Linked DNA regions of Homo sapiens. The protein of the gene in region 2 interacts with the protein of the main gene of each other region in a pairwise test. Each region holds a gene or a part of one and is shown on either strand. Other genes may lie near its edges.

Evidence for each region. The genes of interacting proteins can lie anywhere in the genome.
Region 1: the proteins of NPAS4 (region 2) and ARNT2 interact in a two-hybrid assay, tested with the Homo sapiens proteins (one study listed by BioGRID).

Annotation. Positions count from the first base shown.
Region 1 is NC_000015.10:80,399,386-80,407,422, reverse strand, and holds the start of ARNT2 (aryl hydrocarbon receptor nuclear translocator 2), read right to left. Parts: upstream 3,042-8,037; 5' UTR 2,908-3,041; coding exon 2,877-2,907; intron 1-2,876. UniProt on the Homo sapiens protein: Transcription factor that plays a role in the development of the hypothalamo-pituitary axis, postnatal brain growth, and visual and renal function. Specifically recognizes the xenobiotic response element (XRE).
Region 2 is NC_000011.10:66,416,940-66,424,075, reverse strand, and holds the start of NPAS4 (neuronal PAS domain-containing protein 4), read right to left. Parts: upstream 2,897-7,136; coding exon 2,722-2,896; intron 1,957-2,721; coding exon 1,805-1,956; intron 1,626-1,804; coding exon 1,523-1,625; intron 1,403-1,522; coding exon 1,135-1,402; intron 954-1,134; coding exon 844-953; intron 837-843; exon of another isoform or gene 701-836; intron 499-700; coding exon 363-498; exon of another isoform or gene 242-362; coding exon 1-241. UniProt on the Homo sapiens protein: Transcription factor expressed in neurons of the brain that regulates the excitatory-inhibitory balance within neural circuits and is required for contextual memory in the hippocampus. Plays a key role in the structural and functional plasticity of neurons.

The sequences.
Region 1 (8,037 bases), on a different chromosome or scaffold from region 2:
TTGAAGGAGCAGATTCCAAATTTGGACCTGTATTATATCCACAGAGTAACATGAGTAACATGAGCGTGAAGACCCCAACATCACCGGTCACCAACAAGACCCTAGAGAATCCCCACTACACATCACAGAAGAGTGTCATTGTAAATGGTTCTGCTGTTGTGAAGTGGTCAGCTGGGAAAAAAGGAACAAGTGGGGGCGTGGGGAGGTGACTGGCTGTGGCCTTTGTACCCTGGACACGAACTAGCAGCAGAAATAAATCCTGGTGCTTCCCCATCCATTTGGTTCTGTTTACCAAGCTCTTATTCTTTGCAAAGCAACCATATCTGGGGAAAGGAGGCAGGAAGAAAAAGGAATTCAAAGAAGTCTCACAAGCCCATGTGAGGTAGGCTCTGGGTGACAAGCTTGGGTACCATGGCTCTTTTTGTTGTAAATTGCCCATAGAATCTGAACTCTCTCTCTTTGGCTCAAACCCTGAGCCATGTCCCTTAAAATTAAACCCTTTCTCCCAAAGAAAAAGATGGAGATTCACATGGGGCAATAATAACACATCCCCACGGATCATCCTCAGGGGACCAGTAAAAGAAATGATGGTAAAAGGAAAGGTGATCACCTCAAGGAATTTTCCCTTGAGAAATTATCACCATGCTGAAGATCTCTGGTATAGCTGTCAACAGAGAAAAGCATCTGTCAAGCTGGCCAGGTGTTGACTAGCAACGCCAACAATACCCTATGCTTGTACCATTCAAGTCTCCCGCAGTCCAAGGCACAGGCACAGGCTTTCCTGTGCTTCACACCACGGGGCCAGGGGCAGTTACTCCATCTTTAGATCTTTAGTCCATGTAGCTCATGGAGCAATGTAATGGACAAAAAAGTTTTAAACAATGATGTCCTGGCATAGAAATTATGTAAATCACCAGGGATTTTATTCCTGTTCCCAGTGTATATTGGACTAAAATGTTTTCATTTAACATCTTTTGCTTTTTCTAATTTCATAACATTTACATCTATCAATTTTCCATTGATTTTGAAGTAGTTGAATGGGTTGAAATTGCAGCTTCAGTCACAGGCAAACTGGCACAGATTTGTTTTCAGACCAGCCACGTTCCTCCTCAGTGTTCTGGACAGAGGCCTCCTTGTCTGTTCTTCCAAGAGTCCCTATTTCTGCTGATGGAACTGCCTTCCTTGGAATTACACAGGCTCTTCACCTTGGTGTCTCCATGGACACCTCCCCTTTGTCTCTCCTTGGCCTCCTCCTTTACTCTTACTCCAAATCTAATCAGTGCCAAATCTGGAACTCTTCTACCCGCCCAGTGGTGCATTCCTTCCTCTCTGGTCCAGCCATGGCCACCAATTCTGGCCTCCCCAGCACCTGCCTCATTTCATGCTGGCCTCCCTGTCTCAAGTCTTGTTCCCTCCTTAGAATGTTTCCTAGACATAGCTGACAAATCAGTCTTCCAGAAAAAGTGATCATGCGATTTCCTTGTTCAATACCATTGAGGTCTCTCTCTCTCTCTCTCTGTCTCTCTCTCTCTTTTCTATTTTATTTTATTTTTCTGGTTCTTAGGAAGTGTGCAGAGGACTCTCCCTTAATGTGGAGAGAGAAAGTCCATACTCCTCAGTCTGTCCTTTAAAGCCTGGTCACATCCAAACAACTCAGTGTTAAATCCCACTGCTGCCTCTTATATCCCCAGTGCACCAACTACTCACTGACCTCTGCACTTGCTTAGAGCAAGTCCACTGTTACTTACGCCTGCAATGCCCCTCTGCTACTGGCTCTGTATATTCAAACATTCCCGTTTTCAAGGTTCAGCCGAAATGTCCAATCTCCAGAAGCCTTCCCTGGCCGCCTTAGATGAAAGGGATCTTTCATTCCTAATTCTATGATGAGAGACACTTTTCTTTGCTAGGCATTGCTGTTCCTCCCCCGACCCTCCCTATCTCCAACACATGACCTCCCTCTGCTGGGAATTTCCTGGGGGCCGCCCTCTGTGACTCTCCCTGCATCTTCCACAGGGACCCAGCAACCTGCCGTGCCCACAGCAGCCTCTGCACAACACCCAAAAGTTTGTACTAGCTTAGATGTTCACGTTTCTCTTCTCCCACACCCTGCTCATCAGGTAGGGAACTTTCCCAGTGAAAACGGAACTTCCCTACTACAATACCAAAACAAGTCAATGTTGCCACTTGATCAAGAACTCTTCCATTTTTGAAATATTTCCTAATGAGCTCAGTTGTCACAGACTGCACCCTGGGGACAGGTCAGACCAGAAAGCAGAGGATGTCACCTGGGCAGGACCAGGGCTGCTCCACGCTGGTGACCACAGGCTGGGTGTTTTGTGCCCCCGGAGGGTTAGGACACACAGCAGCCAGTCGCAAAGGGCGCAAAGGACCAGCGCTTAGTGGGCGGGGCGGGCAGGGGAGAGTCCCGGGAGTTGTACCCTGTTGAATCCCAGCTCCAAACTTTTCCCTCCGTCAGCGCGGAGCCCTCCACCAGCCAGGACTGGCTGACGCCGTGATGCCACAAAAGCCGGGACCGGAAGAGAAAAATGCGTGGGATGGGGAAGGCAAAGGCGGTTATTTTCAGAACTTCGGGGGCTCCCGGGCCTGCCCTTCGGGTTCCCGAGGATGCGAGGCCAGCGTCCGGCCGCCCGCGGGTCCGGACCGGCGCCTGCCCGGGACCGGATGGGCAGCGATTGGGATGCAGATGCCGCTCTGGTGCTGATGCTGCGGCTGCCGCGTAGTGACAGCCGCTCCACCACCCACCGCGCCGAGCTGCGGCTCCGCGCCCCCGGGGGCGCCCGGCGCGCCTGGTCCGCTCCGGCCCCGGGCAAGGCCTGCGGGCTGCGGCGGGCGGCGGGGCCCAGGCCGCTACTCACCCGGAGGGTTGACCGCCGCCGGGGTTGCCATCTTGCTCGGAGAGGATAGGCGCCCGCTTGGCAGGGGCGCGGGAGGGGCGGCGCGGAGCCCGGCGCTCAGCCCCGGGGACCCGGTCAGGCCCAGGCGCCGCCGCCGCCACACAAAGGACGGCGCGGGCGGGCGGCGCTCCCTCCGCTCTCCCCGCCGCCGCGGCCGCTCGCCGTCCCCGCCTTTCTCTCCTCCTCCTCCCCCTCCTCGGCCTCCTCCTCCCGGTTCAGCCTTTGTCGCGCGGCGGGGGGCGCCCGGCCCGCGGCTCCCCGGTCAGAGCGGTAGCACCGCGAGACTTGGGGCTGCGGACGGCGGGACCCCCAAGTTGGGCGCCGGCGACTGGCGGGGGCAGAGGGCCGGGCGCTCCCTCGGGCTCGCGCAGGTGCTCGGGCCTGGCCGGGCTGGGACCGCAGGCGCCTCTCCCGCGCTCGCCTAGCCCGGGCTGCCCCCGCACGCCCACGCCCCAGGTGTCCGGGCGCGCTTTACCCAGGGGCGCCGTGCCCAGGCCAGGAGGCCAGGGCGGAGCGGGTGAGGGAGAAGCCCATTTAGATTCAGAGGGAAGCCGGTCCTGGGAGACGGCCGCGAGGAACAAAGGCGCCCCAGTGCTGCCCACTTAGCATGCCAGAGCCGCGCTGCTCGGCTCCCAGGCCGGGGACACGGCCCGGTGTTAAGCGGAGGGTGCCCGACCGCGGGAATTCCTAAGGCCACGCGCACCTCCAAGGCCACCGCCGCACACAGCTTCGGAGTGCACAGTGCACACGCCCAGGCACAGGCAGCCGGCCCGAGAAATTGTGAATGTCTTGGCTTTGAGTAAGGCGCTCATCTCTACCCTCCTTCCATAATGACTGCCGTTGATTATTACTTGAGGGCGCTGCAAGGGCCTTATTTACACCACCAAGTTGAGAATTTAAAAAGATTTTTTTTTTTAAATAGGTTTATCTGCGTATCCTGGCGAAGTTTGGATGCAGAGAACTTGGAGCTGTTGTTTTCTACCAGACACTAGGATCCCTGAGAGAGGTAATGGCCCCTAGGAAGGACACGTCACCATCGGGGTCCCCTGTAAAGGTTAAATGGAAGAATAAAGACATCCCAGGTGAACGCTGAGAAGGGCAAGTTGGTCCCTAAACGCAGATAATGTTTGCAGAGACATCAAACTGTCTTAAATCCTTCCAAGGAAGCATTTTCTGGAGGGCAGAAAATTTGGGATGTATGTTCAAATAAGCATTTTCTTCGGGGAGTATTTGTCACTACTAATCTAATAGTCTATCAGTTCTACAAATGTTGAATGTCTGCTGTGTGCCAGGCACAAAGCCAGGTGTTGGGCCTACCATGGAAAGGAAGAAACAGGAGCTCTGTTCTTCTGGTTTGGGGGGTAGAGTGGGGAAGAGTGAAACAAAGTATCTGCACTCAAGAAGCACACAGCTCCCTTGGGGGCTTAGGGCAGAAGCCCTGAAATTGGCATCTCCAGCCTGTAGTCACTAATGAATGAATGAGGGCAGAGAGGAGGTGGAGTGATCAGGGAAAATGAAAATTAGGCTTTGAAGACATGAGTAGGACAGGTGGAAAAAGAAGACATTTCAAGTAAAAAATAAAGCAGGTGTGCACCCAGCCACAAGATAGGCCAGGCCCAGACAGAGAAACCAGGGTATCAGCTATGGCCCGCTCTTGTGCCCCGTATCAAAGTTGACTGTTCCTGATTCCAACATCAAGCCAAATGAGAATTCAGCCTCTCTTCTACATACCCCGAAAAGCAACACACTCAAAATACCAACTTAATTAATGTATAACGTATACTGGACTGAAGATTTCTTAAGGAAAGTAAAAGAGGAGGCTCTCTTCACTCACTCCACATCAAAAAAGGTAAAACTCCATCTCAGATATTTCTGCTACCCAGAGTCCCTTCTGGATCCTTCTCCCCACAGGCAGTTCAATCTCTGGTGGCCCATAAATAGCCCATAAATAGCACTTGGCATCACTGCCCCCTATCCCACGAGGCTCTTTTATTCTCCAACTTTCCACACCCCTTAGAAGGAAGCAAGTTCCTCTCCTTGGTGTTTATGTATCAGTTTAGCATTTCAGCCAGGACCCATGGCTCATTTTGTCTCCAAATACAGTTCTAATATCATCCCTAAAAAATAAAATATGAGTGAACATGACTCTTACGCACACACACATTTAACCATACAAATTTGTTGACAAGTTTTACTTTCTTACTCTGCTGTTGTGTTCTGCCCATTTTTCTAAATGTTACTCGGCTGATATCTTTAAAACTGGATCTTGCTCAAGCTTCCTACTTCTTGCACTGGTCCATTGCAATAAAAGACAGGCGACACGTGGACAACTGCTAGACACTTCCCAAGTCTGGAGTCGGCCGTGCTGTGGTTTTTGGTACGTAATAAATACGTTTAGATTTTCACAAAGGAGACATTTCATCTTCTCCCCCAGTCAGTGTATTTCAGAGGTAGAAAGGACCTTCGACATCATCCAATTCTGCCCCTGGAGTTTGCAGATAAGGAAACTGAGGCTCAGGGTAGCCAACGTCATGCAGCTTAATAGCCAGACAAGACTTAGAACTGGGCTACGCACAATACTGGGATTTGGTGGCTGGAGTTGGGGAGCGGTTAGGGTGTAGGGGAAGAAATAGAGAAATGGGCAACTCGCCTTCTCTCTCGTCTCTCAGTATTAAATAGGTTAAATGCTCAGAAACACTGATTGTGGATGAAAGCCCCCCACTTAAGTAAACAATCTGAAATGGAGTGGTTAGTCATTGTTGAATACTGAGTGGCATTTACACAACACAGTGGTCTTGCGCTAATTATGAGAGTCAGTAGACTGTGACCAGTTAACACAGGCTCAGGAATTCCACTCAACCTTTAAACAACCCAGAACTCTTTGAAATTCCAGAGGAGGCTGTTGAATTTGAAGCTGAGATTTGCATTTTTGAAAAGATTAATGCAGATCCACCGGGCCCATAGCACACGATTCTGAGCACAGCGCTCCTAGAAATGACCAGAGTTGACCAGCTGCTGTGCTAATGTGTACCAGGGTCCACAGCCTTTCTTTCTTTCTTCTTTTTTTTTTTTTTTAACTTGATGGGAGAAAGCAGCCACCTGAGTTCTGCTTCATATCCCTTTAAGTCCTAATACTCGAGACAAAGGATTTCCATTGTATAATATATAATGATCCAAGGCAATTTTATCTTTTTTTTTTTTTTGAGACGGAGTTTCACTCTTGTTGCCCAGGCTGGAGTGCAATGGTGCAATCCTGGCTCCCCACAACCTCTGCCTCCCAGGTTCAAGCAATTCTCCTTCCTCAGCCTCCTGAGTAGCTGGATTACAGACATGCACCACCATATCCAGCTAATTTTGTATTTTTAGTAGAGACGGGGTTTCTCCATGTTGGTCAGGCTGGTCTCAAACTCCTGACCTCAGGTGATCCATCTGCCTTGGCCTCCCAAAGTGCTGGGATTACAGGCGTGAGCCACTGCACCCGGTTTTTTGTTTATTTGTTTTTGTTTTTTGTTTTGTTTTTTTTTTTTTAGATGGAGTCTCGCTTTGTCACCAGGCTAGAGTGCAATGGAGTGATCTCAGCTCACTGCAACCTCCAACTCCCTGGTTCAACCAATTCTCCTGCCTCAGCCTCCCAAGTAGCTGGGATTACAGGTGCACCCCCCACCAAACACTCCCAGCTAATTTTTGTATTTTTAGTAGAGATGGGATTTCACCATGTTGGCCAGGATGGTCTTGATCTTCTGACCTCGTGATCCGCCCACCTCGGCCTCCCAAAATGCTGGGATTACAGGCGTGAGCCACCATGCCTGGCTAATTTTATGTTCTTTTAACTTCACTTTAAGATATGAAGAAACCAGGAATGAACGCATGGGCTTCTGCAGAAGGAGAGGCATGGTAGGGCTGCCATGGATATAACCACAGGCTTTCTCTCCATTTATATGTCTCCTCTCAACCCTTCCTTCCTCCTCCATTCTTTCTAACTTCTCTCTCTCTCTTTGCTGGAGATAAAGGCTCATGGGTCTGTGTTATCCCCACTGCTACCTCCTTATCTTTATTTCTACACAGGTGACAACTGCCCACGGATTGTCTGTCCAGGCACTACCCCCAGCCCCCACCCCTGCCTTCTTCTCTATCAAGTCTCTCCTTTACACCAAGAATCATGGACTTATAACAGATCAAATGTGGATGAGATGTTAGTTTTATACAAAAAGGCATAAGCACCAGCCTTTGAAGCGAAAGTGTGGTGTAGGTTTTTGCTCTGTCACTTCATGAAACTTCTCTAAGTCTCACTTTCCTCACCTGGAAAATGGGGATGATGTTACCTACTGTGCTGAGTTTTGGTGAAGATGACATTGAAGGAAGTAATGTGTGTGCTGTATACACTTTAGAGACTTTAAAATGTATTGTGATAGTATTGCAGAGGGAAGAAGAAAAGTATGGCAAGTCTCTGTCCCACAGAGATAGGAAGGGGAAGCTTGTCGTGCTTTACCTTCATGGAGAGTGGAGAGAAGGAAGGAAGGAGGGTGGGAGGGGAAACAGGCAGTCAGACCCAGGTGCTCTAGTTTCCGTGGAAGGTATATCAAGGCAGCTGATGGAATAGCCAAAAGCAGAGGGGTTTCTGGCCACCACCCATGTGGGAGTCTTGGGGAAGATAACACACAGGGTGGTTCTGCAGGGATCGAAGGATGTAGCTGCAAAGCTGGGCTTTATATGGCACTCCTGGCTCCTCGTGGCTCTGTGAAGTATGCTAGGTGTCCCACAGGTGAGGAGACATGAAGGCATTGAGGGTCTAAATTAACAGATATCTGGGTGAGGACTAAAAGGCTATAGTAGGCAAGATTGAATGAACAAGGCCCCAAACCAAGGCCACAGATATCAGCTCTCAGTGTGAGTCTTCCTAAAGATACCTTAATTTTCACCAGCCAAATGACCATCCCAGCCCCTCAGAATGGAGGCGGGCAAGGCTCTAAGGCTCCCTTTTCTCCCACCACTCCCTCCTTGACCACCTAGACACCACCTTGAAGGGGAGCTGGAAGTGAAAGGGAAAGGACCTAAGAATGACTGTGCATTCACCTGGGTGATGCTGAGCTTTCTAAGAGATGGTGTAAAACAAAGAAATACT
Region 2 (7,136 bases):
TTTGGAGGGTCGGGGAAGCTCTTCTGATGCAGAGACAACACTCAGTTCAGGAGCACTGGGGAAGCTGGTGCTTCTGGGAGCCCCCAGTGCTGCGGTGAAGAGTGGGTTAGTGCTGGAGCACTCTTCCTGGGAAAGAATGTTTTCAGGGAATGAGGGCAGCATGGTCGGAGTGCCCAGGACATAAGCTGCCTGGGTGTCTTCAGAGTTCAACTGCTGGCGGAGGCTCCAGGCTTCCATGTCACTGGAGAGGAGAGAAGAGGCAGCTGGTAAGGGTCCGACGTCCATATCCAGAGCAGTTCCCTGATTTGTGTCTCCTCCATGACGACCTCAGCTGCCCCCTAGTCCCCTGGCTTGTGGCTTACCTGATTGGGTAGTTATTGGCAGTAATGGGTCCCTCTGGACCTTCTGAGTATAACAGGCAGTAAATCCATGCCCAGCCTCCAGTCTTGGCCTGTAGCCTCACCACCATCTCTGCCTGAATATCTCCACTCTCAGCCACTGGGGAGAAAGAAGATGCAGAGTTAGGATGTCCACCAGGCAATTCTACCTACTCCCCACCCTTGGTCACCTCTCCACTGAATTGAGATAGCCGTGACATCCTCTCTTCTGACTACCCTCACCTGAACCACTCAGCTCTCTACCTTGACCTCACCACTCAGAGTCCCCCAGTTCTGATTTGATTATTGCCTTGAATCCTCACCTTCATGTTCACCCTATAGCATCCGAAACTGTTGGCCTCTGTTATCTCCCCAGCATCACTCTTGACTACAGATCATTCTTTGTCTGGTCTCCCATGCCCTTTCCCAGCTTGCTATCTTGTCCCCAGCCTCTCTGGACACTCACACAGGCGGTAGTGTTGAGCAGAAGCGTGGGCCAGGTCCTCGGGGTGCAGCAGTCCATACCATGATTTACAAAGCAGTTCACTGCGCTCAAAGCCCAGGTAGATTAGGACACTGGGAAGGTGGAAAGGGTGAGGTCAGCTTTCTGTTTTCCTTGCTTGATACCCATGCATCTCACTCCCTCCCAGATCCTCTGCCCCCCTAAACCCCATCCTCCCTGCCCCTGACTCCAGAATCTAGGGTCCCTTCATCTCTGGCCTGCCTTTCTCTTGGAATCTGAACACTCCAGGCTTACCTCTCGGAGATGTCCAGTAGAGCCAGGTCTTTAGCATGGCGGCTCTGGAACATGGCCAGGAAGAGCGAGGCAGGGCCAGGGCCAGGGCCAGGACCTGGGCGGGGTCTCGGCTCCAGAGGGGCACAGAAAGCTGTGAACACGGGATTTCCTGCCCAGTAGGCTCCAGGTGGGTGAGCATGGAATCGGCCTCGAATAAGCACGAGTTTGTTGCCTGCACTCTGGCGCCTGAGGGACTTGGAGGTGTTGAAGCGGCAGCGGAAGAGGCGATCTAGATAGATGAAGAGAAAAACAGATAAGAGGGTGAGTGGCTGAGAGAGAGACAGTGGATGGTGGGGAGAAGGGCAGCAGGTGGGAAATTGGACCGAGGAAGGGAGAAGGGAGTCCTTACCAGTGTCCAGGGCAGAGGGCAGGGTGAGTTGCTGGCGCACAGTGAGGTGGTCAGCTGGGTCAATGATGTCGTAGATGCTGTCACCCTGGGCAACCAGGTCCACCTGGAGGGAGGAAAAGAAGAGATGACCATTAGGGAGAACAGCAGGAGCCAATCTTTGATCTACAGTATCTTGTAGGGTATAACCTCTCCCTCCATAGTAATTCCCAGTTCCTCAGGAGTGGAAGGCTCACGGCACCCACTCCATGCCCAGCCTCAGCTGAAAGGACCCTTAGCACTCACCATGGAGTGGCCCAGATGCTCGCTCACACTCTCAGACAGGTAGAGCAATTTCCCCTCGGCTGTGAACACAAGCAGAAAGCCGGGTAGTGCCGCTACGATGTCCTCAAGCTCTTGAGCTGAGAGAAGCCCCGTGGGGCCCGCCAGAGGAGTGCCTGTAGGGCGAGAAGACGTAGTGCGTCAGGAGTAAGACTGGGAGGCAGAGAAGAAGTGAGGAAGGCATGGTCTGAGTTTCAGAGAATCCAGAGGAATTTCTCATGGACCTGCCTCTGCAAACACCTGTTGACCCGCTGCCCGCAGCTCTTGGCCAGGGAACCTGTTGCTGTATCTCCATAGCCCACAAGCCCTCGACTTCTAAAGCGGGGTCGGCTCCTCTCGGCTCTTAATTTCAGAACCGCGGACAGAGCTCCAAAGCGGCTCTGAATTTCAGAACCGCGGACAGAGCTCCGAAGCCGACTGTGGGTTCAGAACCATGGACAGAGCCATACACGGCCGGCGCAGCCGTCAGCACCATGGGCAGCGCCCCGAAGGCGACAGGAGATCCCTTTCAGCACCGCGGACAGTAGCTATGTTCCCCTAGGCTCAGGCAGCTCCATCCCTGCAACTTCCCGGGCTTCCCTCCCCGGCTCCCGGAGCGCTTCTGCACTGGCGGGCACCGAGGCCGCTCTGTCCTGGCTCTTATCCTCTCATAATCTGGTGTTAGGGACACCGTCCAGGCTCTCTAACTCTCATTCAGAACTAAGGTGAGGTCTGGAGGGAGCTCAGGAGGAAAAGTAGAAAGTCCCGAATCTCCCGAGTCCCGAATCTCCCCAGCTCGCCAGCACGCTGCCCTAGACATGCGACAGCCCCAGCGGGTTCCCTCAGCTCCAGGGTCTCCGGCGCCTGGCAGCTCGGATCTGCGGTAGCCCCAGCATGCTCACCACCAGCGAAGAAGACGCCCTTGCGAGTGTAGATGCAGGCGAGGCTCATGATGTGCAGGTAGGACAGCCGGACCTTGTCCGCTTCGGCCAGCGGCAGCAGCTCCTTGAGGTTCCGGATCTCGGCGTTGATCTGGTCCCGGCGCGCCTTGGAGGCGCCCTTGGTGGAGCGGTACATGACCGGCGGCTGCGGAGCTCCAGCTCGGGTGCCCGAGCACCTGCGCTCCCGTCCCGACGCACCGGCGGCTTCCTCCTCCGTGCTTCCCCGTCTCTCGCTCAGGCTCGCTCTCTGCTCTCCTGGGCTCCGCTCGGCTGCGCTGCCCCCCTCGCCTGCCTCACGCCGCCTTATATAGCTCCTGCCAGGCGTGGGGGGCTCGTTTTAGAGCCGGGGGGGCGGGAGAGCGGGAGGCTGGGCTAAGCAAGCTGCAGCGGGAGCCGCTGACTGGGGAGGGGGGCTCCTCCTCCCGCCCGGCTTCCGACGTCATCTCATGACGTAGAATGAGAGAGGGAGGGAGGCGGGCGAGGGGGGAGCAGGAGGCTGCGGAGGGGGCCAAGCCTGGCGGGAGCTGAGCGGAGAGGAAGGCGCTGCGTTAGGAAAGCTTGAATGGAGTGTGGGGACCCTGGCGTCTGAATGCGTTCAGTTGAGGGAAGCGACAGGGCCAGGTTTAGGGCGGCCTGAAGCCCGCGGCAGGAGTCCGCAGAGGGCAGAGAGGGGCCGGCACTGACACTAATTTTTCTGAGGAGTTGAGGGAATGGGGAAGAACAGGGTTGTCTACAAATCCCCCTCGTTACTTGACAGACAAGGTCACGTTCACATGCAGGGAAGGAGGACTTTCCTTGGCCTCCGTGGGACAGGTCACTGCTGGGGTTCCTCTCTGGGGACTATTTAACCTGGGATTCCCTTGGCCATTTTTAGAGAACAAATTCCCGCCCCCGCTTCCCAAATCGGGCCTTGGCGGCTTATCAGGGGGTGTTCATGGGGGTCTAAGTCCCGAGGATGGGTGGAAAGGGAGTCCGGTGGGAAAGGGACCAGCTGAATTTGGCGTTGATCCTGTTTTCCCACAGCCAAGAATAGAAACCAACATCAGCGCTGTAGTCTGCAGTGATTCGTGGTTTCCCTCTCAGCTAATTAACCTTACTGAAGGGGAAACTGAGGCAGGGACGTGGGGGCACGGCGAGGACCTGGGTCTGCACTTAGGCATCCCTTCCCCCCGTTGCCGGCCCCCAAGCGAGCGCTTCCCCCCGCCCTGCTGCCAGCCTCTGTCTCCCCGCGGGCCGGGGGCGGGGGCGGGGCCGGGGGAATCCCAGCTCCATATTAGGACAGGAATCCTCCGGCGGCTGCCGCGGCTGCGGCGGGCGGGGCCTGGCTGCCTCCGCACCGCTCCGGAGGGCTCCCCGCCCTGCCTAGGCGGGCAAGATGGGGGAGCAGCTGAGAAGCGAAGGGGCAGCGCCGGACCCTCCATGACCCCTGCACCTACCAGGGACCCTGTATTTTTGCCAGGTTCCCTCCACCCCTCTCCACATTTGCGCCTCTAAGGCTCCTGGCTCTGCCTCTCCACCTTCAGCTCTCCACTTTCCACCTTCGTTTCTTTTTCTGTCCTTTCATATCCTTTTCTATCCTTTTCATATCCTGTCACCTTTGCCCTATCCCCACCCCCCCACACACCCGCTTTTTTTCTCTTTTCACCACAGATGATTGCTCTCTACAGGGGCGAGGATGTGCCGTTCTTATCCTGGGATTCAATAATGCAAGAAGCAAGTGGGCTAGGGAATGTTCTTATCTGAAATCTCGTTTGATGGAGTAGCTGTGTGCGCATGGAATCACTTAAGTGGCTGGAAATGAGGCCACTTAAAAATTGGAGGGTGGGACTGGGAAGTCCCAGTCACACAGGAAGCATGGAGATGAACTTTGACATCAAAAAGGACAATTTGGGGCCAGGGAACTCTCCGCTCCTCATGGAAAGGGGTGGTAGTAAGAGAGGTAGAGTGGGAGGAGAGGCGGCTGAGGAGAAGTATGTCTTAGAAGAGGTGTACAAGGTGTGGAGACCCTATTCTGGTGTCTTATGCATTTTGGCAGAGGTTGGGGCCATCCTGTGGTCAGTGTCACAGCTGAGGTGGAGGGAACGATGTCCGCTTATCTGTCTGCCACTGTCTCTAACCCCATTGACCTGGATGACAGAGAGATGATTCCTCCTGGACATGGGTCTGTGTTGCTTCTTTCTTCTCAATCTGACCTCTAATGTACCTACCCACCCCTCTCTCAATCTTCCATTTGAACAATCCCTTGATCTTTGGATCCCCTTCCGTATGAAATTCCAGGGGGGTTGTTCCTGTGTTCTTCATTCACTGATGCTAAAGCTGCCTGTGAGGCATTCTGAGTGTCCCCCTCCACAATAAGAGGAGTCTACTGGCTGGGTGTCATGGCCTCCAGCAATCTGAGCGAATCTGCAGTGAAGGAATACTGCGCCGACCGCTGTCCGTGGTGCTGAAAGAGTCACCATGGAAGTCATGCTACGGTTTGCCGGGGACATCGACGTAGGGCTTGGGTACCCACAGGCCTCAGAGTGAGCCTACTCTTTGACTGTCCCCTTATTCTCTGTGAATGAATATGGAGGGTTTGCAGGGGGCCAAGATTTCTGGGCTCTAAGGGTGAAGTAAGCAAGGGAGGAGAACTGGGCTCAGGGGAAGAGCCCCTGGCTTTTTCCAGGAGAATGGAATGGGAAGAAACACTTTGGAAGGGAAGAAGGGTCTAGAAAGGGACAAGGGAGGGGGTAGAGAAGGGCTCATCCTAGTTCGCCCACTCTGATTCAAGTTGAGAAGCTCTGTGTGCCCCAATGTCTCCTCTCCCTAGGCCAGCTCCCACTCCCCTTGCCTCCCACCTCCGTGAAGCTATTTTTAACTGTGCAGAACCAAAAATAGCTTGGCAGCAGCTTCAGGCCGTGGGAGAGGAGCTATTTATATCACCAGTGACGGTTCCGAAATAGCAAGCAGGAGGAGGGGGGCGGCTGGCACACTAGAGAGCTCCTGGCCGCTGCTAAAAATACTGGCAGTGTGAGTCATCCTGGCCTGGCTGAGTCACCCCACTCTCTCCCCCAAGTGGCAGGCAGCAGCAGAACAAGCTAAGAATTAGAAGCCTGAGATGGGGGAGGCATCAGAGCCTGCTGGCTGTGGGAAAGTGGGCAAGGGAGTGAATTGGGAGAGGGGCTTTGGGGTGAGCGTGTAGAAGGAATGGGAGAGCAAGCCTCTCAGCCAAACCTACTGGGCAAGCGTGCAGCATCCTCAGCTATGCACTACTGCTCAAGGATGCTTGGGCAATTGAAGGAAAAGAGCCAGACTCTGTGTGTGTGTCTGTGTGTTTGTGTGTGTGTGTGTTCATTTGACTGAGACTGTGTTTGTGTGTCCTGTGTGTCTGCCTCCAAACCTGTCTGGAGGTGGTTGGATGTCTACATCTCTATCTGTTTGCATGTGTCTTTGTAGCTGCGAGTCTGTACCCCTGTATATCTATGTTTACCTATGCCTGCATCTATGCTTGTCTTTTTTTTTTGTCTCCAACTTCCTATGTTCTGTGCAGTTCTATGTTTGTGCCTGTGTGTATTTATGTCTACAATTTTCCATATGCCTTTCTGTCAGTGTCTGTGTTTGTGTCCATATCTGAGTCTGCTCTGGGTCTTTCAGCATCTGATGGTGTGGTGGGATGTACATGCGTCCCCAGACTCAATATAGCTTCTGTTGCCCTCTCTGAGGTCACCCGTTGAGTTCCTGCACCATCTATATCTTGCTCACCTCTTTCCACCTAACATCTTCTCCTCTTTCCAAAGGCCCCCTAACCATTTGCAAAGCTCTCTTGTTGCATGCAATCTCTAGTAAAAACATGGAGGAAAGGAGCCCCACATGACCTCTCCCTTTTCTCTTGAATCATCCTGAATTCTCCCTGGCCTGCAGGAGTAAGTGGTTTTCCATCACTCCATATTTGGAGAGCTGAGAGAAGAGAAGGGCTTTCTTTAGTTCTAAAAAAAAAAAATTCCTGGTGTGGGCACAGGCATGTGTAGCGCGCATGCACACACACACAGGCGCACATACACATGCACGCACACACACACAACTGAGAGAATGAGAGAGAGAAAAAAATATCAAGGTCCCTTCTTTACTGAGACGAGCTCGCATCTGTTGCCATAGCAACCCACCCACTCCTTCCCCGAAAAATCACCGAGAAGAGGTGATGGCATCGAGGAGGGATTGGCTGATTCCTTTCTTTATTATTTTTTCCGAAAAAGGGTTTTTGTAGCAAAAACAGGCCGTGAGATCCCTTGCTCCTGTCTTGCATAGCTTTATTGGGAAACTGGGGGAGGGGCATCACCCCCCAGCCTTTATCAGAGAAGAGGAGGTGTATCTTTTCCAGAGATTTGGAGGAGGATTAC